Homo sapiens: one gene and its partners. The gene in region 2 interacts genetically with the main gene of each other region. Each region holds a gene or a part of one and is shown on either strand. Other genes may lie near its edges.

What was found.
Region 1: changes in ASCC3 (region 2) and MBTPS2 together harm fitness more than expected from each alone (negative genetic interaction), as found in Homo sapiens cells (one large-scale study listed by BioGRID).
Region 3: changes in ASCC3 (region 2) and CDK12 together harm fitness more than expected from each alone (negative genetic interaction), as found in Homo sapiens cells (one large-scale study listed by BioGRID).
Region 4: changes in ASCC3 (region 2) and RBM25 together harm fitness more than expected from each alone (negative genetic interaction), as found in Homo sapiens cells (one large-scale study listed by BioGRID).
Region 5: changes in ASCC3 (region 2) and DNA2 together harm fitness more than expected from each alone (negative genetic interaction), as found in Homo sapiens cells (one large-scale study listed by BioGRID).
Region 6: changes in ASCC3 (region 2) and RPLP1 together harm fitness more than expected from each alone (negative genetic interaction), as found in Homo sapiens cells (one large-scale study listed by BioGRID).

What each region holds. Positions count from the first base shown.
Region 1 is NC_000023.11:21,849,617-21,853,116, reverse strand, and holds part of MBTPS2 (membrane-bound transcription factor site-2 protease), read right to left. Parts: intron 1,609-3,500; coding exon 1,505-1,608; intron 1-1,504. UniProt on the Homo sapiens protein: Zinc metalloprotease that mediates intramembrane proteolysis of proteins such as ATF6, ATF6B, SREBF1/SREBP1 and SREBF2/SREBP2.
Region 2 is NC_000006.12:100,843,330-100,846,829, forward strand, and holds part of ASCC3 (activating signal cointegrator 1 complex subunit 3), read right to left. Parts: intron 1-3,500. UniProt on the Homo sapiens protein: ATPase involved both in DNA repair and rescue of stalled ribosomes. 3'-5' DNA helicase involved in repair of alkylated DNA: promotes DNA unwinding to generate single-stranded substrate needed for ALKBH3, enabling ALKBH3 to process alkylated N3-methylcytosine (3mC) within double-stranded regions.
Region 3 is NC_000017.11:39,467,986-39,471,485, reverse strand, and holds part of CDK12 (cyclin-dependent kinase 12), read right to left. Parts: intron 608-3,500; coding exon 1-607. UniProt on the Homo sapiens protein: Cyclin-dependent kinase that phosphorylates the C-terminal domain (CTD) of the large subunit of RNA polymerase II (POLR2A), thereby acting as a key regulator of transcription elongation.
Region 4 is NC_000014.9:73,057,034-73,061,333, reverse strand, and holds the start of RBM25 (RNA-binding protein 25), read right to left. Parts: upstream 2,801-4,300; 5' UTR 2,629-2,800; exon of another isoform or gene 2,550-2,628; intron 2,249-2,549; exon of another isoform or gene 2,099-2,248; intron 2,059-2,098; exon of another isoform or gene 1,881-2,058; intron 1-1,880. UniProt on the Homo sapiens protein: RNA-binding protein that acts as a regulator of alternative pre-mRNA splicing. Involved in apoptotic cell death through the regulation of the apoptotic factor BCL2L1 isoform expression.
Region 5 is NC_000010.11:68,423,474-68,426,973, forward strand, and holds part of DNA2 (DNA replication ATP-dependent helicase/nuclease DNA2), read right to left. Parts: intron 1-3,500. UniProt on the Homo sapiens protein: Key enzyme involved in DNA replication and DNA repair in nucleus and mitochondrion.
Region 6 is NC_000015.10:69,451,355-69,455,617, reverse strand, and holds the start of RPLP1 (large ribosomal subunit protein P1), read right to left. Parts: upstream 2,801-4,263; 5' UTR 2,670-2,800; coding exon 2,598-2,669; intron 1,972-2,597; coding exon 1,897-1,971; intron 449-1,896; coding exon 331-448; intron 191-330; coding exon 111-190; 3' UTR 1-110. UniProt on the Homo sapiens protein: Plays an important role in the elongation step of protein synthesis.

The DNA of each region.
Region 1 (3,500 bases), on a different chromosome or scaffold from region 2:
ACCAATATGTTGAGCAAATAATTGAAGTTAGTCACATATATACAGAAATGGCTTTTATGAGAAACTAAATGAAAAACATTTTTATGGTTTACTCTGAACTATTTTCAGAGAAGAACATAGGAGACGATATAATTCAAGTAAATTACCTAATAACTTGTATTTGTCTTAGCAATTATAAATAATGGTGGAGATTTATCTAGGTGTATTCCTATCAAGCTAACGTTAAATAAGTATGTTTAAACATGCATAATGCTCAGATTGTCCTTAAGAGAACCAGTTTTTTCAGCAGGTTTTGATCTCCATATTAAAAAAAAAAAGAGAACCATTTTTTATCAGTTCATTTTCCAAAAATTAATATTTAAGTCTCATAAAACCAAACAGCCCCCCTAGAAAAAAGTATCACCTAAATATATTGTGCTGTTGCTTAATACTAAATATATAAGACAACCGTACAGTTCATTTTTTTTCTTGGCAGTTGGGACTTAAAAAAAAATTACCCAAGTTATTTTTACAAACATACTGTAAATTGTTAAGCTGTTATTAACGATGTGTCTATAGGTAAAATCCTAAAGGCTGCAAAGCACTGAAGGCGATTTTAAAAGAAAAAAAAAACCCAGCAGCCACCACTTTAAGCCACTATTGTGCACATCTGTGTAACAGTATATGCTCTGTCAAGATGAGGATTTATTGCCAATAAATAGACTCTTGTTCATAAACAACTGGAAAGTAATAAGAAGTGATTACATCTTCTCTGCCAAAACAGAGGTTTTTAACCTTTTCTCTGGTCCACACACCGAAAGGATAAAACACATTCCTATTAGCATGCTTGCTAATTATGGCCGTAATTATCAGTGGAGGTAGCAGGGGAGTTATGACGTGGCCCTCTCCCCATCATGATTTTATATGTGTTATAGGCTTCTAAATGCTTAGGTATAGTTACAATGATACATTTGGGAAGCCAAGACCAAGAACAGGGAGTGATACTCAAAGCTAGTCCCAGGTGTCTTCTTATCTTCCACTTGGGTTTCTAGATAGACTATGATATTTGTTAAACCCAGTGCTTTCAGTTTTCTTGCTCTAGCCAGCAGAGGACATAAGCAGAAGCAGGAAATTATTTCAGCTGATAAGTCAAATCAAGTTCTAAGGTGAGTGGGTTTTGAGTACAGTGGTTATCATTCTGACTCGATGAACAGAAAGATTGGCTTTTAGGACTTGGTAAAAAACTTTGAGGCATCATGAGGATAACCACACTGGAAAAGGCAAAGGATAGAAAGACCCTGATTACAGATATGCCCATGGTTAATGGAGCATATTCATCAACATATTAATCTTCTCTATAAAAAAAGAAGCTTCCTCAAAGTAACAAATGATGGCTATGCACTAGGCAATAGCCGCAGAAAGAAAAATAGTGAAGTATCAAATATAGCAGATTTTAGTAATAAATCCTCCTAAATGAAAAGCTTTTTTTTGCATGTAGTACAAAGAAAAAGGTAAATATCATTACCTAATAGCTGCTATCCCATGTCCAATTTCATGTACAACACCACTAATGAGAACTGCCGTGAAGAAATAGGTCAGTTGATTGACGGGTAAATTTATACCAGGAACCTGTTCATAGACACAATATGGCAGCAATTATCAGTGGGGGTGCAGGGGAGTCCCACTTGGGCACTAAGATACATGATGTTCATTCTGTATTAAACCTTCAAGCTGAATGTTCTGCAAACTAAAAGTAATATGACAATGGTTCACTTCTCCATTTCTATCATAATAAAAAGCAAAAACGCTATTTCATTTTTCGAACTAGCCAGTTTCTCTGGAACAAGCACACCACCAGTCTAAAGAGAATGAGAAACACCAGGTTAAACAGTTGAGATGTTAGCTTCCTGGAGTCTTCACCTTGGGAAAGAATGAGGGAGCCCAGCAAAGTGCCAAGGAATGCAGGATGACAGTGAAGCAGGCAGCAGCTGACCCAACCTCAAGGGCTGGATGCCTGATTTGGGAATCCTTGTTAAAATTCCTAGACCTTCCGCTGAATTGTTATTGCAAGGTTCCAAGTACTTGTGTTGATTAATATAGGAACTCCATATTATTAATCAGCGAGTTTCATTTTAATATCCTCAAGTTATAGGTGAGTTGGTAATGAAAGCTGGTCTAATAGGGATCCCGATCAGTGTGGGAGCACCATACCCTTCTATTCCATTAGTTGGTCTACTATGTTGGTCAGAAAAATAGTGTGGAAGAGATACACAAATACATTAAAATTGAAATTTAATGTCGAAATTAAGGCATTTGGAACCTACAGACATGTTACAAACATATGAAGCAGGAGTTGTCTTACAATCATGTGCTCCTAAAATGTGCAGGTATATATTATTGCATACACAAGGGAAGATAAGAGCTGCACAGCAAATTTTTTTAGATAGCAAAGATATATTCTCGTAAGATAAGTAATCACTCCCAAGTTATGTCATCTGTTAAAGAGAGACAATAAATTAGGCTAAGTGGGACACACCAGGCTCAGGAATACCATTTACATACTGAGAATCTATTTCTTACAGTCCAGGAGTTGGGACTAAAAGGTATCCTTTTGGAGGAAATTTCTGCTTTCTTTTATAATTATATTAATTATAAAAAATATGTTTAAAGCAAGAAAACTGGAAAATTCAAAGCAAAACAGAAGCCTAAAATTCTGCTCCCCAAACATACATACACATATAAAACCATTGTGAACCATTCTGATGTATGTCCTTCTAGTCTTTTCCTGTACACATAATTTTAAAAACTATACTTTTATTATAAATCTGGTTTTGAAATTTGCCCCTTCACTTAACAGTATCACAGACGTCTTCCCATGAGTATTTTCTATTTCAATATGATTTTTAATAGCTACACTGTGTTCTATGGAATAAACTGTTGGGCATTTAATTAAGTTTCTGCTCTTATAATGTGATAAAGATATTTGGACACACACACCTAAATATTTTGGAGGAAGAAATTCTTAGATGAGCATACTTGCTAAGGGATTGGGCTCTTGAGACATGTTATGGGTTTGAGGTCCTGTCTCTTTTTTTTTTTTTTTTTTTTTTTGAGACGGAGTCTCGCTCTGTCGCCCAGGCTGGAGTGCAATGGCGCGATCTCGGCTCACTGCAAGCTCCGCCTCCTGGGTTCACGCCGTTCTCCTGCTTCAGCCTCTCCGAGTAGCTGGGACTACAGGCGCCCGCCACCACGCCCGGCTAATTTTTTTTTTTTTTTTTTGTATTTTTAGTAGAGACGGGGTTTCACCGTGGTCTCAATCTCCTGACCTCGTGATCCGCCTTCCTCCGCCTCCCAAAGTGCTGGGATTACAAGCGTGAGCCACTGCGCCCGGCCGGTCCTGTCTCTATCTCTTAACTAGCTAAATGACCTTGGGAAAGTTGGCATTATTCCTCCAACATTCCTATTTTCTCATCATTAAAATGGAAATAACCACATTTGCACAAAAGGGTAATTTTGAGGAT
Region 2 (3,500 bases):
TGAACTTGCATGGGTCAAGTAACGCCATCTGCATAGAGTCAAGAGATAATACTAACGGCAAATGTCAAATCACAAATGCTATAAAGAAGCAGCCCATCTGCACAAAAGCAAACTACGGTTGTATCAATAAAACTCAAAACTCTCTTTTTCTAAAAACTGATTATACAATAACTCTATCAGTATCTACATCAGCATTAATAGCTTTGCAAATAGCATGTAATATTGAAATAATACTGAGATATGTATACTTCAATACATCTCCAATATGCTAGCCTTTCAGATCCCACTTTACATATTTCTCAAGTGTGTTTTTATTAACATCTTTTCCATCTTAACAAGAACTATTAATATCAGAACTCACTTCAAAAACTTAATCCAAAAGATTTTCTTTAGGGTAGTCAGACATTAAAAAGCCAGGCAGGAAAAAAATAAAAATAACTAAATAAGTCCCTGAATTAAGACCTCGCTTTTAAATATCATTTTATTGTTTGAAACATCCATAGCTAAGAAGGCATAGATAAAAATTTATTTACTGACATATAAGGTATACACCTAAATAAAAGTTTGACTGTGCAACTATATGGTGCAAACACTTGAGAACCTGGTCTGTGAAACATTATGTCTCATATATATTATCTCACAAATCCTCACAGCAACACTGTGAAGCAAATATTTCACAAATTAGAGAAATGGGGTTCACAAGAGCTTAGTAATTTGCCCATAGTCGATAAGACATTAGCAAACAGAGACAAAATTTGGCCTGGCTTTATAAGAAAAGAAATTCCTTCAAAGAGCCTTGCCAGTTAATGTTCTTTTCTTCAAAAAATCTGATGGCATACTAGATAGGAATAGTAGATCTACACTGAGAAAAAAAGTCCCAGAATTTCTACCACTCTTTTGCTTTGTGACTTTAGTAAACAACTGAGCCTCAGTTTTTTTAACCTTTATAAAGAGGATATCACTCCTACACATTGCAGGACTGTGAAGAAGCTGGTTAGGTCAGAGAAGAAAGCCTGGTTCGGGTCCATACATAACAGGCACTTAAAACCTGGTAGCTTTACTGTTGTTAATACTACTACTTTCTAGGGGAAAATTTTCTGTTGAAAGTCCATTAGTTATACCATTCCAGTAGAACGAACCCTACTGCTACAATTCTGGTTCTGAAACACCCGCAGCAGGAAGACAATCTGTACCAATAATGGACAGGTTTTGATTAAGAAAATAACATGGAATATTCAAGTCTTATTCACTTCCGGGTGTTAAAATGCACTTCTAAAAGTGAATAAAATTCAAGAACATAAAGAACCTTAAAGATTTCTAGCCAATCAAATTCTAAGGCTTAATCATAATGCCTACAGTCTTACCTGGAAAATTACAGAAGCCAAAAGAAGAAATGCTCTTAGAAGAAAGTAACATAGAGGCTCAAGGTAGGGAGGGAAAAGGGGATGATATTGGCAAAAGCTAAGAAGTGGGTTGTTTTATTAGTACAACACGCAGGAGGACACAGATGTACTTTCTATGTAATGAATTCCCTGAGGAATAATTAAAACTCATCTTAAACAGGTCTAAAACAGGAGAACATAGATGTGCTTTCTATGTAATAAATTCCCTGAGGAATTATTAAAATTTATCTTTAACAGGATCTAAAAGTTTCATCCTTTTATTTCAGCCAATTCCTTATTTGAAACTCTAAAAGGAAAAGATCTTGTTTCTAAAGAAATTGTGAATTAAGAGTAGATGTCAATAATTCCCCTACATAAATTTAAGATGCTTAGCTTCAAAACACAGGAATATGTACAAATCTACTTAAACTTCAGTGCGCCTGTGTACTTTGTCAGAATGTCTGAATTTACATCCTGGATCCACTGTCTACTCTGTAACTCCAGACAAATTTCCCAACATCTCTAAACTCAATTTGCTAATCCATAAAATACCTGCCACCAGAGAGCAATAATCTATGGGACGGACAAAGCATTTACTTAAGGTACCAGCAAAGCAGACCAGGAAAGTTAGAAAAACTTCTCAAAACGGAACTTGATGTTTGAAAAAGACATCAACTTTGTCACCACAGTAATAAATGAAATTTTGTTAGATTTTCTTATGTTTGCTTTAGTATGCTATTTTTAAAAAAATTTTAATCACATATGGGAGAGGAGGAGAAATGCCTCAGAGTGTAACCTTTTCAGTTCTTAGGGCTTCTAACATCTTAATCCAGCACTGCCTATCTCAAAGCACTGCTATAAAGATTAAATGAAGTCATGCACATAAAGCACTTAACATAATGCCTTATGTCACATATTAATGTCAGTTATTATTATTACTATTGTCATTAGTCTTATTCCTCTCCACGTTTCAGTCAGAAATCTCTCTTACACAGTCTTTGTGGTAAATGTAATCATATGAATATACTTTTTATTCCCATGTTTCTAACACTAGTTTAACAATAACATAAAGGTCTTTTTAAAAAAGACTTTAATAGCTAGCCCTTAAAAATGGATTTATCATCAATTAGTCATTATGTCAATTAACTATTCAGAGCTGGGAAACCACAGGTTGAGAAGAATTTTTGCCATCAGCATAGAAGTAGCTTTATATGCTTTTCTTAGATTATATGTAAAAATATTCCCATGGTTCTGCTACATTTCTGGAGCAAGAGCACACAGCATGCTACATAAATATTCCTATTTAAATAAAGAGTCAAGTAAAAGCTTAAAAAGAAATAGAAATTAACTGTTATCATATGAACTGATGGCCTTTTTAATTATCCTCTTTCCAGGCTTAAGTATTTAGAAGTAAATAGACAACACATAAGGTATAGCACGCACACCCTAAAGTGAAAACAACACTGGTCAAGAACAACCGCAGTGAAACAACTGTAGGGAAACAATTGTAGAAAACTCCTGAAGTATCACTTGAAAATTATACTGAAAATTTGCCATAACAACAGAATATAACATATAACAGCAAAGAATTGTATCTAAAATATAAAGCATGAATAATCTATACTGCAGAACAAAAATTATGACAATGATTGTCCATTTTCATATACGAACAGGAAAACCAAAACACTGACTACATAAAACTATACAGAACTACCACTCAAGCCACTGACAGGATGTGAAATATCAACTTACATGTTAAACTATCCATTAACCCTGGTTGAAAAAAATCATTGAACCAGACTATGCAGACTTCAGTGTGGCTTGTCATACACCTTAACAAGGCGCTCAGCCCTCACCTCCTTTGGCTCTTACCTATCTGCATACCCTTGTTTCTCAGCACTCCACCTTTGCATCTTGCATGCTTGCTGTACAGAGCTACAGCTCTCTGAAAACAGTGTTCAAGCCTGAAATATGCTCCCTACCTTTCTGGTCCACTTGAAAGAGTTAAATCTAGTCATATTTTAAGAATTGGTTCAAGCTTAACCTTCTCTATGCATACTTTTGCTACCATACTAACACCTCTATAAAATCTATGACTTGTTCTTTTATGCACCCATT
Region 3 (3,500 bases), on a different chromosome or scaffold from region 2:
CAAAGGGGGTGTCTGAGGTGGAGGGGTAGTAGTTGGTAGAGGGGGTGGGGGAGAAGCAATTGTGGGAAGAGGTGGAGGGGTCTCCTTTTCTGATGTTTCTGTCTCCTTTGGAGTAACAATCTCCTCTTTCAGTGCTATGGGTTTAGAGTCTCTTGTTCCCTGTGCTTTCAAATCTTTAACAAGATGCTTCTCGGAGTTCTCATCCAACTTTACTTTCCCTGTATCTGAAGAATTTTTTACCTCTGTGTTTAGATGTGTTACATTCACCAGTTCAGTATCTGGGGCAGATTTTTCCAATTTTACACTTCTGGGTAACTTTTTAGACTCCAAACCTGAATCCTTAGCCTCTACTGAACTGTTCTCTTTTCTAGGCAAAAATACAGGTGAACCCTTGGACTCCTTTCCATCCATCTTTGCTGCAGCAGCAGCAGCTGCTCTTTCCTTCTTTTTCCTACTGAGTTCAGCTCCCAGACTGGAATTAAGTGGAAGCCTGACAGGTGAGATACTGGAATGACGACTGCGTGAACTGGATCTCTTCTTTTTACTATGAGAAGATGAATGTCTTGAATATGCAGGACTTCTACTTCTGGACTTCATGGATTTCCTACTGGAAAAATAAAAAGCCAGTTTTAAATGAATGGACTACAGTAGTATATGGAGGAAAACAGATCAATAAAACAAACTATGAAGAACTGTAACTTATCAATTGTAAAATAGATTAAGTGCCATCAAAAACGAGGACAGTCTGAGAAACCAGCCCAATCAAGAGGCACCCCAAGGAGACAGGACTAAATGTAAGATGGTATAATGAGTAAGATCCTGGAACAGAAAATGGACATTAGGTAGACTAAGTAAATCTAAATAAAGTATGGACTCCAGTTTATAATTATGTATCAATATTGGCTCATTAACTGTAACAACTGTACCACATTAATGTAAGATGTTAACAATAGGAGAAACTGGATGCAGGGATATATGAGACTTCTTTGCGCTATCTTCACAATTTTTCTGTAAATCTTAAACTACTCTAAAGAAATAAAGTTCATTTAAAAAATAGATTAAACTGGCTGGGCACGGTAGCTCACACCTGTAATCTCAGCACTTTGGGAGGCTGAGGCGGGCAGATCACCAGGTCAGCAGATCGAGACCATCCTGGCTAACACGGTGAAACCGCATCTCTACTAAAAAATACAAAAAATTAGCCAGGCGTGGTGGCAGGCACCTGTAGTCCCAGCTACTCAGGAGGCTGAGGCAGGAGAATGGCATGAACCTGGGAGGTGGAGCTTACAGTAAGCCACTGCACTCCAGCCTGGGCGACAGAGTGAGACTACATCTCAAAAAAAAAAAAAATAGATTAAACTAAATCCTACATGAAAACATATCTGAATCATATAACAATAAAATTATCTACTACTTATTCATCTGAAAAAAGATGGGTCACTATTTTTTTCCCACATTGGAAAAGAAACAGCCATACTCACAATGATTACTTTCAGAATTTTGAATTTAATCTTTGATAAAGTGAAAACAGGATAAGGCAGTCATGCTTGGCCAGGTGCGGTGGCTCACGCCTGTAATCCCAGCACTTTGGGAGGCCAAGATGGGTGGATCGCCTGACATTGGGAGTTCGAGACTAGCCTGACCAACATGGAGAAACCCCGTCTCTACTAAAAATACAAAATTAGCCAGGCGTTGTGGTGGGCGCCTGTAATCCCAGCTACTTGGGAGGCTGAGGCAGGAGAATCGCTTGAACCCAGGAGGCAGAGGTTACGGTGAGCCGAGATTGTGCCACTGCACTCCAGCCTGGGCAACAACAGCAAAATTCCGTCTCAAAAAAAAAAAAAAAAAAGAAGTCATACTCCATAGTAAAGGTGGGTTATATCCATCAGGAAGTTAAAAGCAACAAGCATGCTTCACCAAAACCTAAATTTGTTAGCTAGAGAGTTAAATGGCAGAGCCCAGAAAAATATGTTGTTCCTTGCATCCTCAGTTTATAATAAAGTTGTAAAGTTTAAAATAAAGTACTAAACAAATTCCCAACACATAAGGCTTAGGATTTACAAAACAAATAAAGTGGAGAAAATGATTTACCAAAATAACTTTTAGAACGTTTCAAAAACATGAGGGCTCCTAATATCTTTATTATAAAATGATTTCCAATAGACTTTTTAGAAACTCCTAAAGATATTATTGCATGTTTAATTAATTGTCTTCTTAAGAAAGGCTTTGGAAATAAAATCTGGGAATCTATGGGGCAGATCATTTTAAGTTGAAACCCAAATGTCATTAATTCTCATGACTTTTTACTAAAGCCTAACCTGCTAAGGCCTCAATGTGTGACAAAACAAAAAACCAACAAAGGCCGGGTGCTGTGGCTCACGCCTGTAATCCCAGCACTTCGGGAGGCCGAGGCAGCAGATCACGAGGTCAGGAGATCAAGACCATCCTGGCCAACATGGTAAAACCCTGTATCTACTAAAAATACAAAAATTAGCTGGGTGTGGTGGTACATGCTTGTATTCCCAGCTACTTGGGAGGCTGAGGGAGGAGAATCACTTGAACCCAGGAGGCGGAGGTTGCAGTAAGCCAAGGTTGCAGTGAGCAGAGATTGCGCCACTGCACTCCAGGCTGGCGACAGAGCGAAAATCTGTCTCAAAATAAATAAATAAATAAATAAATTAATTAATTAATTAAAATAAAAACATTAAAAGTGCCGGGCACTGTGGCTCACGCCTGTAATCCCAACACTTTCGGAGGCTGAGGCAGGCGGATTACCTGAGTTCGGGAGTTCGAGACCAGCCTGACCAATATGGAGAAACCCTGTCTCTACTAAAAATACAAAATTAGCCGGGCATGGTGATGCATGCCTGTAATCCCAGCTACTCGGGAGGCTGAAGCAGGAGAACCGCTTGAACCTGGGAGGCAGAGGTTGTGGTAAGCTGAGATTGTGCCAATGCACTCCAGCCTGGGCAACAAGAGTGAAACTCCGTCTCAAAAAAATAAATAAATAAAATAAAAATATTAAAAGCATAATTGGACAAAACAAAATTTTCCCAGTAGTCTAAAACAAATTGCTTCCATTCTAGATCATCACATCTTCCTTTATCTTTGATCAGGGAGATATGGTAAGACTGACATATAGTAAGACTGACATGAACCAAAATGTTTCAAAACAACATATATGTGTAAGGGAAACAACTTGCATAATGGCAGCGATGATTTTCTTTTACCTATACTGCTTCTTGCAAGTTTGCTTCCAAAAGTCAGTTAAAATATAAAATTATTATTGGAAGCTGGGCGCGGTGGCTCACGCCTGTAATCCCAGCATTTTGGGAGGCTGAGGCGGGTGGATCACCCTGATCAAGAGTTTGAGACCAGCCTGACCAATATGGTGAAATCCCAGCTCTACTAAAAATACAAAAAAATTAGCCGGGCATGGTGGTGTGCGCCTGTAATCCCAGCTGCTCGGGAGGCTAAGGCAGGAGAATTGCTTGAACCCG
Region 4 (4,300 bases), on a different chromosome or scaffold from region 2:
CAATCCCAACACTTTGGGAGGCCAAGGCGGGTGGATCACCTGAGGTCAGAAGTTCCAAGACCAGCCTGGACAACATGGTCAAACCCCGTCTCTACTAAAAATACAAAAATTAGCCAGGCATGGTGGCAGGCACCTATAATTCCAGCTTCTATGGAGGATGAGGCAAGAGAATTGCTTGAACCCGGGAGGCGGAGGTTACAGTGAGGTGAGATCGCGCCACTACACTCCAGCCTGGGTGACAGAGCGAGACTCCATCTCCAAAAAGGAAAAAAAAAAAAAAGTACACCAACTCAGAAAAATCGGCAAAATCTATTTAAGAACTGTAGATTAGGTATTTTATCAGTGTTAGTTTCCTGATTTTGATTGTCGTACTGTTGTTAGGTAAGACTAGTCCTAATTTTTAGAAAATACACTTAAGTATTTATGGGTTAAGGGGCATCACATCTGCAACTTACTAGCAAAACATTTCAGAAGAAACCTATGAAGAGAAGGATAAAGCAAATTGGCAAAATGTTAACATTTGAGGAATCTGGTGAAAGATAGCTGAGATTTCTTTTGTACTATTCTTGCAACTTTTTTTGTAAATCTGAAATTATGTCTAAATAAAAAGTTAAAAGCCAATACCAATAATTCTGGGTAGTGGAATTTTGTTCTTCTAGTTTCAGCAACTTTCAATTTTCAAAAAAAGGTAGAAAAGCTATTTAAGAAGAATCAAAAATCCCCTTTTGTGAATGGCAGTGATAGTGTTTGAAAAGTCAATCAAGAGATCTCTAAAATACAGACTGTTTTAGCAAGATGTTAAGATTGATAAATGATTCCTTTGCTTCCAAAGCTATAAAATAATGTAAATTTTCACTAAATCATGTGTAAATAAGAAAAGTAAACTGCTAATTTGTCTGTGGACAAAAACATAACTTGAAAATTCCAAATTCCTGTTAGGTCTGAAGTAGTTACCCAATGTTAACATGGACTAGTTTTACTTTAAAAATACATTCAGAAGGCCGGGCACGGTGGCTCACGCCTGTAATCCCAGCGCTTTGGGGCCTAGGCGGGCGGATCACGAGGTCAGGAAATCGAGACCATTCTGGCCAACATAGTGAAACCTCGCCTCTATTAAAACTACAAAAATTAGCCGGGCGTGGTGGCGCGCGCCTGTAGTCCCAGCTACTCAGGAGGCTGAGGCAGGCGAATCGCTTGAACCTGGGAGGCGGAGGTTGCAGTGGCCAAGATCGCGCCACCGCACTCCAGCCTGGGCAACACAGCAAGACTCCGTCTTAAAAAAAACAACAACACAAAACAAAAAAAAAAATTACAGAGTCAGGGTTGGACTCTTACATTTCATTGAAAATCCTTAAATAACAAATTATGTCAATATAGATTTAAATGCTTATGTGTGTTACCTGGATACTGCACGAAGGATTTTACATACGTTTTTCTCAATCCCCAACCCCAATAACGTATAGATACTACTATAAATTCATTTTACAGAGGAACAAAAACCAAAGCTTAAAAGAAAAAAGAAAAAGAAAAACCAAGGCTTTAAGTTAAATGAATTAGAATACTATAAGATTCACTTGAATCATGAGTAACTTATGACCAACTTAATCCCTTTCAAGTCCTCTGAATGTTTTTGGAAATAGCCTTTAAAAAAATTAAAAGCTCCAAAGACTATACAAAAATTATTTATACATTACTGCCCACGGCCTAATACACAGAGTACTTCACACTAATACAGCAGTAGGGTGCAACAGAGGTCCAATCTCTTCCCTTCTCTTGGCTCCACTCTGCCCAGTATCAAAATGGCATTTCCATGGCAATACAAATCCATATTACATAACCTCCGAAAAATCTTCATAGTCCTACGTCTATTCCGGAAAACCGTATTTAAAAGCAGGATTGACGACCAAAGAAAAATGAGAAAGTAACATTTTAATGTGGAGCTTAGTAATCGCCTAGAATGAATGGCGATATACAGTTTACTGCACCCTCCAATGCGCAAAAGAGGCAGGATGGCAAAATTCATGACTATCTTAAGCAAGCCAGGAGACTGCTAAAAAGGTAGGTATTAGCTCAATTCCAAGGGGGTGGGGCCCAGTTCACTTGGTGGCGGGCTCTAGATGGCCAAAGAGGAAGGGAAAGATATCCGTTGGTGGCCAGCACCTCGCTAAAAAGGGTGGGTAGAGGCTAACTTCAAGGCAACGGCTGGGGCGAGAGTGTCCCAGGCCCGAAAACCTACTGTGGGGCTCCGGTAAGTAAGGGGGCTCAGGGAAGGGCTCCCCTGGGGCAGATCGATCGTTTTGTATCTAACGTGGAGCCCAGGGGGGGCAGAGACGATTCACTCCGCGGCGGAACGTGGAAGGGAAAGGGAAAGTGGGCGACAATGCAAGACGGAAAGCTCAAGCCGTAGGTCTGGCCTCCACCAGCTACGGCTGGGCCCACAGCTTTTCCAGGCCTTAGAGAAGAGAAGAAACCAAGCCTCGTGCCGACCCCTCCCCCACCCCCGCCTCCGCGCTCCCCCTTACCTCTACCCCACCCTGGCGCTTTCGCAGCCACCCCGGCTTTTCCTCCTCCACCAGCTGAGGCACCCGGTCTCCCGGTTTCCACACGCGTTCAGAGACACAAACTCACCCGCCGCTGAGGAAACGGTACTGCCTTCGCGACCTTCTGGGATCCAGGTTACGAGTGCGCTCCACTGGTTCGAGATTTCTGCCCGTCGCTCGCCAGGGAGACTGAGTGCCCAAGCGCCTACTCGCACAGGCCGCAAATACAGCCGCGCTGCGCGGCGAGCTGATGGAGGTCTTCCTCTTGCCCGGCGTGCACTGCGGCCGGGGGCGGGGAGCGCGGAACCATAGAGAAGAACGTATATAGATCGTCTCCGCTGTTGGCTCTGACTCACCAAGCCGAGACGAATAACCATAGAGAAGCAGCGTCTAGCGGTTACTAGAAAGGCCCGAACTGTAAATTATGACCCACCATGTTTGATTGGAGCCGACTGAATCTTACGACTACGGGACGCCATCTTGAGGTCAAGGTTCCGGCTGGGCACGGCGCGAGGAGTGTTAGAGGCTTTCTCACTTTTCGTAGTTTTTCGGGGGGTGGAACCTTGCTTTGTGATTCCTTGAGGTTCGAGGAACTGATAACTGGGCGCGATCTGCAACCTTAGTGTTAAACCCCAAGTGCTGTTATAACAACTACTCGAGATCAACAAATAATTGGCAAAGGCTGTGGAGGTTTTTTGAAAAGCAAAAGCTTATGCGTAGTTGTAGGGCCAAAGAGGTGGCTAGAAGATGTTTGGAAAAACGTGAAAAGTCCTGTAATACTAGTTAACACAGCTTTCGTTCTGTAATCTAAACGTGCTAAAAGAACTTAGCTTAAGTTAATGGAAATGAATAAAATTAATCATAAATGATTACGTTATTCCAATTGTGGACCTTATAGGCAATATCTAGTTACACGCCTTTCTCAACTGCTTGCCTCTAGGAAGGCATAAAACGGATTCAGTATAAAGTTATTGCCTCCCTGAGTTCCTGGTGCTGTGTTAAGTGCTGGAAGTATGAAGGCAAATGGAAGTGAGATTTGTTCCTGTCCTGCAAGAACTGTGAGCCAGGTGAAATAGATGACAAACCATGACCAGCCTAATATAAAATTGAAACATACTACACACTTCCTGCCTGCCTCCCCTACTTAATTTTACTCTAAAGCACTCATAACCATCTATCATAACATACATTTTTCTTGCTGATTTTATGGTCCGTCACTACCCCCACTAGAATGTGAATGTAAGCAATGCATGGATTGCCTGTTTTGTGCAAGAACAGGTCCTGGTACATAGCAAGCGCTCAATAAATATTTGTTGAGTGACAGAAATGATTACCGGCCGGGCGCGGTGGCTCACGCCTGTAACCCCAGCACTTTGGGAGGCCGAGGCGGGTGGATCACCTGAGGTTAGGAGTTCGAGGCCACCCTGGCCAACATGGCAAAACCCCGTCTCTACTGAAAATACAAAAATAAACTAGGCGTGGTGGCAGGCGCCTGTAATCCCAGCTACTCGGGAGGCTGAGGCAGGAGAATCGCTTGAACCCTGGAGGCGGAGGTTGCAGTGAGCCGAGATGGCACCACTGCACTCCAGCCTGGGCAACAAAGTGAGACATTGTCTCAAAAAAAAAGAAAAGAAAAGAAAAGAAATGATTAACATATGATGAGTACCAATAGAACACAAAATTTAGTGGGAGCACAAATGAGAAAGTAGCACTAATTACTACCATCTGCAAAATTTACATCCTTCTATACTTCTGCTTGC
Region 5 (3,500 bases), on a different chromosome or scaffold from region 2:
GCTCTCTCCAGCTGAAGGAACAGGAAAAGGAAAGCCTAGCTAGACAGAAAACTTTCACACAATAACTACTCTAGCCAAATATCACTGGAAAAAAAGTACAGCCCCACAACCACAGACACCAGCAAACAGGGAGGAGGGTAGATCTCTGCCCTTCTCAAGGCTGTAACAAGGTGCCCCACACCCCACCAGGCGGGTGTCAGAGAAAGCCAAGTAGGGAGTCAGGTCTTTCATCCCCGATGACTGGTAACTGGCACCAACCCCACATGTTAGTAGAGACCACATCAGAAGCCTAGACTTCCACCCCAACCAAGTGGGCCCAGCGGTAACGAGGAACCTCCCACTTTGGTCAAAGAAGGCTGAGTGGGGAACCCACACTTCGACTCCCACCTGGCAGGAATGAGGTGGTACCCCTCTTCCCCTACCATGGCAGTGTGAGAGGAAGCCAGCTAAAACAGAAGTTTTCAGTAACAACAAAATATGCTCATGTTTCAATAAAAAAATCAATAATTAAAGACGAACCAGGAAAATCTCAAACTCAATGAAAACAGATGACAATCTATAAATGCCAACACCAGAATGACAGAGAGGTCAGAACTATCTGACCAAGATTTTAAAGCAGCCACGGTAACAACATTTAATGAGTAATTATGAACACGCTTGAATATGAACCAAAAAACAAAGTCTCAGCCAAGAAATAGAAGATAGAAAGAATAAAATGGAAATTTTAGAACTAAAAATATGATAACTGGGCCAGGTACAGTGGCTCACGCCTGTAATCCCAACACTTTGGGAGGCCAAGGTGGGCAGATTGCTGGAGCTCAGGAGTTTGAGACCAGCCCGAGCAACACAGCGAAAACCGGTCTCTACAAAAAATACAAAAATAAGCTGAGTATGCTGGCATATACCTATAGTCCCACCTACTTGGAGGGCTGAGGCAGGAGGATCACTTGAGCCAAGGAGGTCGAGGCTGCAGTGAGCCTTGATCATGCCACTGAACTCCAGCCTGGGTGACAAAGTGAGTCACTGTCTCAAAAAAAAAAAAAAAAACAAAACAGGCCTGAGGCCGCCGCTAGCCGGAGCATCACCATGAAGTTCAATCCCTTCGTGAACTTGGACCGCAGCAAAAACCGCAAACGTCACTTCCATGCCCCCTTGCACGTGCACCGGAAGATCATGTCATCCCCGCTCTCCAAGGAGCTGCGGCAGAAGTACAATGTCCGCTCCACACCCATCCGCAAGGACGACGAGGTCCAGGTAGTTCAAGGACACTACAAAGGTCAGCAAATTGGCAAGGTAGTCCAGGTGTACAGAAAGAAAGATGTCATCTACACTGAGCAGGTGCAGCGTGAGTAGGCCAACAGCACAACCGTCCACGTGGGTACTCACCCAAACAAGGTGGTTATCACCAGGCTAAATCTCAACAAGGATCGGAAAAAAATTATTGAACACAAAGCCAAGTCTCGACAAGTCAGAAAAGAGAAAGGCAAATATAAGGAGGAACTTATTGAGAAAATGCAGGAATAAATATAACCTGTTGTGCAACCATGGTTTAACTGAGATTTTTAGGCTAGTGTGTGTTTCTTTGGAACTTTTCAGAATGTCTCTGGAACATTTCTTTTTTTTTTTTTTTTTTTTTTTTGAGACAGAGTCTTGCTCTGTAGCCCAGGCTGGAGTGCAGTGGCATTATCTCGGCTCACTGCAACCTCCGCCTCCCAGGTTCAAGCGATTCTCCTGCCTAAGCCTCCCGAGTAGCTGGGATTACAGGTGCCTGACACCATGCCCAGCTAATTTTTTGTATTTTTAGTAGAGGCAGGGTTTCACTATGTTGGCCAGGCTGGTCTCGAACGCCTGACCTCGTGATCCACCCGCCTCGGTGTTCCAAAGTGATGGGATTACAGGCATGAGCCACTGGGCCCGGCCATGTTTGTGTTCTTTTTTTTTTTTTGAGATGGAGTCTCGCTCTGTCTCCCAGGCTGGAGTACAGTGGCGGCGATCTCGGCTCACCGCAAGCTCCGCCTCCCCGGTTCACGCCATTCTCCTGCCTCAGCCTCCCAAGTAGCTGGGACTACAGGTACCTGCCACCATACCCGGCTAATTTGTTGTATTTTTAGTAGAGACAGCGTTTCACCGTGTTAGCCAGGATGGTCTCCATCTCCTGACCTCGTGATCCGCCTGCCTCGGCCTCCCAAAGTGCTAGGATTACAGGCGTGAGACACCGCGCCCGGCCATCTCTGGAACATTTCATTTCCTGTTTTGTTACCTGAGGCTCTGTAAATCTACTTTTGCAAATTTAATTAATAATTTTATAAATAAAAATGGGAAATGTTTCATAATTCAAAAAAAAAACAAAAACCCCAAAAACCCAAAAAACAAATACCAGGCCAGGCGCTGTGTCTCACACCTGTAATACCAGCACTTTGGGAGGGCAAGATGGGTGAATCACTTGAGGCCAGGAGTTCAAGACCAGCCTGGCCACCACAGTGAAACCCTGTCTCTAATAAAAATACAAAAAATTAACCAGGCATGGTAGTGCATGCCTGTAGTCCCAGCTACTTGGGAAGCTGAGGCATGAGAACCATCTGAACCTAGGAGGCAGAGGTTACAGAGAGCCAAGATCGGGCCATTGCACTCCAGCCTAGGTGACAGAGGAAGATTCTGTCTCAAAAAAGAAAACCTTCAGCATCTGGGGCTAGACAGAGTTCTTAGACTTGAGACCAAAAGTATAATCTATAAAAGGAAAAAATGTATATTCCGGACTTCCTCAAAAAAAAAAACCTTTTGCAGCCGGGCACAGTGGCTCACGCCTGTAATCCCAGCACTTTGGGAGACTGAGGTGGGCGGATCACCTGAGGTCAGAAGTTTGAGACCAGCCTGGCCAACACAGCAAAACCTCATCTCTATTAAAAATACAAAAATTAGCCAGGTATGGTGGCTCATGCCTGTAGTCCCAGCTACTTGAAAGGCTGAGGCAGGAGAATCGCTTGAACCTGGGAGGCAGAGGTTGCAGTAAGTGGAGATCACACCACTGCACTCCAGCCTGGGTGACACAGTGAGAGTCTGTCTCAAAAAATAAATAAATAGGCCGGGCGTGGTGGCTCACACCTGTAATCCCAGCACTTTGGGAGGCCAAGGCAGGCAGATCACAAGGTCAGGAGATGGAGACCAACCTGTCTAAGAGACGGTGAAACCCCGTCTCTACTAAAAAAATACAAAAAATTAGCCGGGCATGGTGGTGGGCGCCTGTGGTCCCAGCTACTTGGGAGGCTGAGGCAGGAGAATGGCGTGAACCCGGGAGGCAGAGCTTGCAGTGAGCCGAGATTGTGCCACTGCACTCCAGCCTGGGCGACAGAGCAAGACTCTGTCTCAAAAAAATAAAATAAATAAATAAATAAAACTATCTTTTGTTCTGCATAAGACCCTATGAGGAGGATAAAAAGCAAGCGATAGAGTGGGAGAAAATACCTGCAAACCACATATCCATTAAAGGGCTAGTATTAGAA
Region 6 (4,263 bases), on a different chromosome or scaffold from region 2:
GAAAGCCAACATTACAAAACAGACCATTTTTGCAGAGCACATTCCAAAACTATGGACAAGACCAACAGCAGTAAAGTTCAGCTTTTTATTGAACATGTTATAAAAGAGGTTTAGTCAAAAAGACCAAAGCCCATGTCATCATCAGACTCCTCGGATTCTTCTTTCTTTGCTTCCACTTTCTTCTCCTCAGCTAGAAAAAAAAAGTCAATCAGGTGTTAGGATTTCCATACTTCATATACTTGTGAAAAATTAATGGCAATTTTGTCTATAATACTATTTTTTAAAAAATCTCTACACTCCTCCCAATACTAAAAACTCCATGTTTCCTACCTGGAGCAGCAGCAGTGGAGGGGGCAGGACCTCCTGCTGGTGCAGCACCAGCTGCTGGAGCAGGTCCACCGGCCCCTACATTGCAGATGAGGCTCCCAATGTTGACGTTGGCCAGGGCCTGCAATACATGTGCATGCATAGGTAAACGCCCAGTTCTGTCCTTGTTAAGCACTCACGCAGCCAAAAACGAAAAGTATCCCCCATTCCAGGTTACAGTGATCAACCCCTAACACTATATACAGTGAGTTCCACATCCATGGATTCAACAGTGGAAAAATAAGCATGTGTACCAAACATGTAGACTTCTAAAGTATACAGGAGGATGTGCATAGGTTATATGCAAATACATTTATATAAGAGATGGAACATCCTGGGATTTTGTTATTAGTGGAAGGTCCTGGAACCAATACCCCAGACACTGGCTTTTCTTTGCTAACAGCCAAGACTTAGGTTACAGGGCAACGCACTACTGTTCAGCTTTGAATCTGATAATTACATTCCTATATGTTAAGAACCTCCTGAGGCAGCTGATTTCCCTCCTTTTACAAATAATATGTTGGTAAAAAAAAAATCCAAACTTCCTGAAACACTCAAATGAATATTCTTTCCACAGTTCCATGTCTCCTCTTAACAGTGAATTCAAATTTTCAGTCTACTAAACAAATATAGGACTTCAAAAGGGGCTTGTTAAATATGACATAGGTACAATGTTTTCAATCTTTCAAAACTCTTTAGAGGTCACAACCCTGGAGTTAGATGCTATTAGCTTCACTTGACAGAGATTAAGTAACCTGTACAATGGAAAATAGCCAGTGCAAGCTCCATGACCAGGAACCTCTTTATTAGTCTTTTATATCCCAACACACAGTACCTACTGTGTCAATGAAGTCCGCTAAACCCAAATGTCCATCAAACCATAGGTTTAATGCAAGAATTTACTGAAAGAATTTGCTTGCGGGCCGGGAGCGGTGGCTCAAGCCTGTAATCTCAGCACTTTGGGAGGCAGAGGCGGGGGGATCACGAGGTCAGGAGATCGAGACCATCCTGGCTAACATGGTGAAACCCCGTCACTACTAAACACACACACAAAAATTAGCCAGGCATGGTGGCGCACGCCTGTAGTCCCAGCTGCTCGGGAGGCTGAGGCAGGATAATGGCGTGAACCCGGGAGGCGGAGCTTGCAGTGAGCTGAGATCGCACCACTGCACTCCAGCCTGGGTGACTCCGTCTCAAGAAAAAAAAAAGAAAAAGAAAAAGAATTTGCTTGCAACTTAACATGCGTAGTACCTATCTCCCGAGTGACCCTTTTTGGGAATAAATGACCTGATTCACATTTTTTTTAACCATGGTTTCAGAGCAAAAGGGAAACCAGAGTCTGATAAGGAAACGTAAGACTTGACAAGCTGAAATCTTATTAGCTCCTAGAGATATACATGCAACGAAAAACACCTAGGAGATCCAGCGGCATGTGGGGCGTTATGGCACCGCTGGGGGTACTTTAGCATGTACAACTGCCCTCGTAAATCAGCAGGCCTTACCACAATCACTTTGCCACCATCACCTTACCTTTGCAAACAAGCCAGGCCAAAAAGGCTCAACATTTACACCGGCTGCTTTAATGAGGGCATTGATCTTATCCTCCTACAACAAATAAAAACGTCAATCCATCAAAACGTAGCGTATGTAATATCTCCAAAATGCTGCACGTCACTCAATAAGTGTACATAACATGTTTAACCAGCTCAAATATTCTATCACAAGCAAAAGAGATGTGTGCCAGGCGCCCTGCAATGAGGCGAGCCCATCACTGCTGTTTCACGGGCTGGGACTTGCCTGAGTCACGCGGCTATTTTTAAGTTACAAGACCTGGGAGGTGGAGCCGAGCTCGGGCGCCTTCCTCCACGACCGGGGGAATTCAAGGCAATTACACCGAAAGAGGTCCGAGTAAGTGTCCCTGAGAGAGACGAGGCACGGGTCAGGGTGCCCAAGCACTGCGGAAGAGCTTTTCTACACGAAGGCTCTTGGAGCCGGAGCGCCCAGCCTCAAGCGCACTCCATGCCCGCTGGGCCCGCACGTGGTCCCGGGGGCCCAGGACCTGCCCGGAGAGAGGCCCCAGCCCCGAGGAGCGCCCGCCCTATGCGGCCTGTGTTCGCGGCCTGGCCCCGGCCGGAAGTGCTCAGTCGAACGGCCTGGAGCCGGGAACCGCATGGAGAGCCGAAAGTCACCGCCCACAGGCAGCCCGGCCGCCGGCCCGCGCCCGCACTCACCGTGACTGTCACCTCATCGTCGTGCAGAATGAGGGCCGAGTAGATGCAGGCGAGCTCGGAGACAGAGGCCATGGCGCGGGCGAGTGTAGGGCTGGCGCTGCCGGACGCGGTGCTAGTCGCCGGATGAAGTGAGGGCCTCACCCCAACGCAGCCTTAGCTTCCTCGGAAGGACCGAGCACCTTGGCGGCAGCTGAGGAAAGGGGCTCTCGCGCCTATACGCAGCCTCTTATGTGTCCACGCGGACCAATCGGCGCCCGCACCGGGCGGAAGAGGCGGACCCAGGACCCACTGAAGGCGCCTGCGCACTGCGCCTGATTGGTTCTTACTGTTGAGAAAGTTTCTCAGCGCCTGCAAATACGGTCCCACTTTATTTGGGTAAATTATAGGACCTGAGAACGTTAAAAACACTTTTAGGTTAGGGTTGCCTAGGTATTCGGACTTCGCCTCCGTTGGTTCCATGAGTTGCTTGACTTGGCAGGAGCTCCGCTGTGGCCCTGGTGACATTGTTCGTAATCTCCTGGTTAGGTCGCGGCCTTCCCAGCCGGCGCTGACCCTGAGAGTAAGGGCTGCGTCCCAGCTTGGAGGCCCCTGCTTAGCGCAGGACCTTGGTTGAGATAGGTAGATGTAGGAGGATGAGAGAAACTAACAGCGTTATGCTAGCAGAAGCCGTAGAGCGCTTACTATGTCCCAGGCACTGAGCCACATTCTGCAAGGATTCACGTAATCCTCACACACCAGGAGTTGGATGTTATCTCCATCTTGCATATGGCAAAATTAAGTCTTAGAGCTGGTAAACTAGCCCAAGATTATGTAGTTACCGCGCAGTGGAGCGTGGATTTGGAATCTAGAAGCCTAACTTAGACCCGGTAGCTAACTCAAGATTGCATAGTTCCGCGCGGTGGAGCGTGGAGTTGGAATCCAGAAGCCTAACTTAGACCTGGTAACTAACCGAAGATTGCATAGTGCCGCGCGGTGAGCGTGGAGGTGGAATCCAGAAGTCTAACTTCACTGCCTAGTGCTTGGGGGAAGGAGGGATTATGGGTAAGCTGTCTACAACCCGTTATTTGTTATCTAAACCCAATTTAAATTCCTACCTTCAAAAATGGTCATCTTTGCATTCCTCGTGGAATTTGCTTAGTTTACCGGAAAGTTAGTTCTATGTATATATATCTTTTTTTTTGGTGGGGGGGGGGCACCTTCTTTGTTTAGTCCATCCCATTATTTAATAATCATCTCTGAAGAAACATTTCTGTTGGAATCCACCGATCTAGAGTCCCACTTGGGTCAATCTTAACTACAAACATAAATATTTTCACATCCGGAATTTTTTAAAAAAGCATTTATAAAGCTATCAAACTTTTAAAAAATAAAGCTGTTGAGTTTTCATCCAAATCTAAGCAGCCATTATAGTGGAATTTTGGTCAAGAAAGGTTAAAGCTATTAAAAAATCCAAACATTTCCAAAGCTACAATGAGTCAGTCCAAAATACTGTTTGTCCAGCAGTGTACATAAAAAACTGATCTGCCGGGTGCGGTGGCTCACGCCTGCAATCCCAACCCTTTGGGAGGCTGAGGCGGGTGGATAGCCTGAGGTCAGCAGTTCGAGACCAGCCTGGCCAACATAGTGAAACCTTGTCTCTATTAAAAATACAAAAAATTTAGCTGGG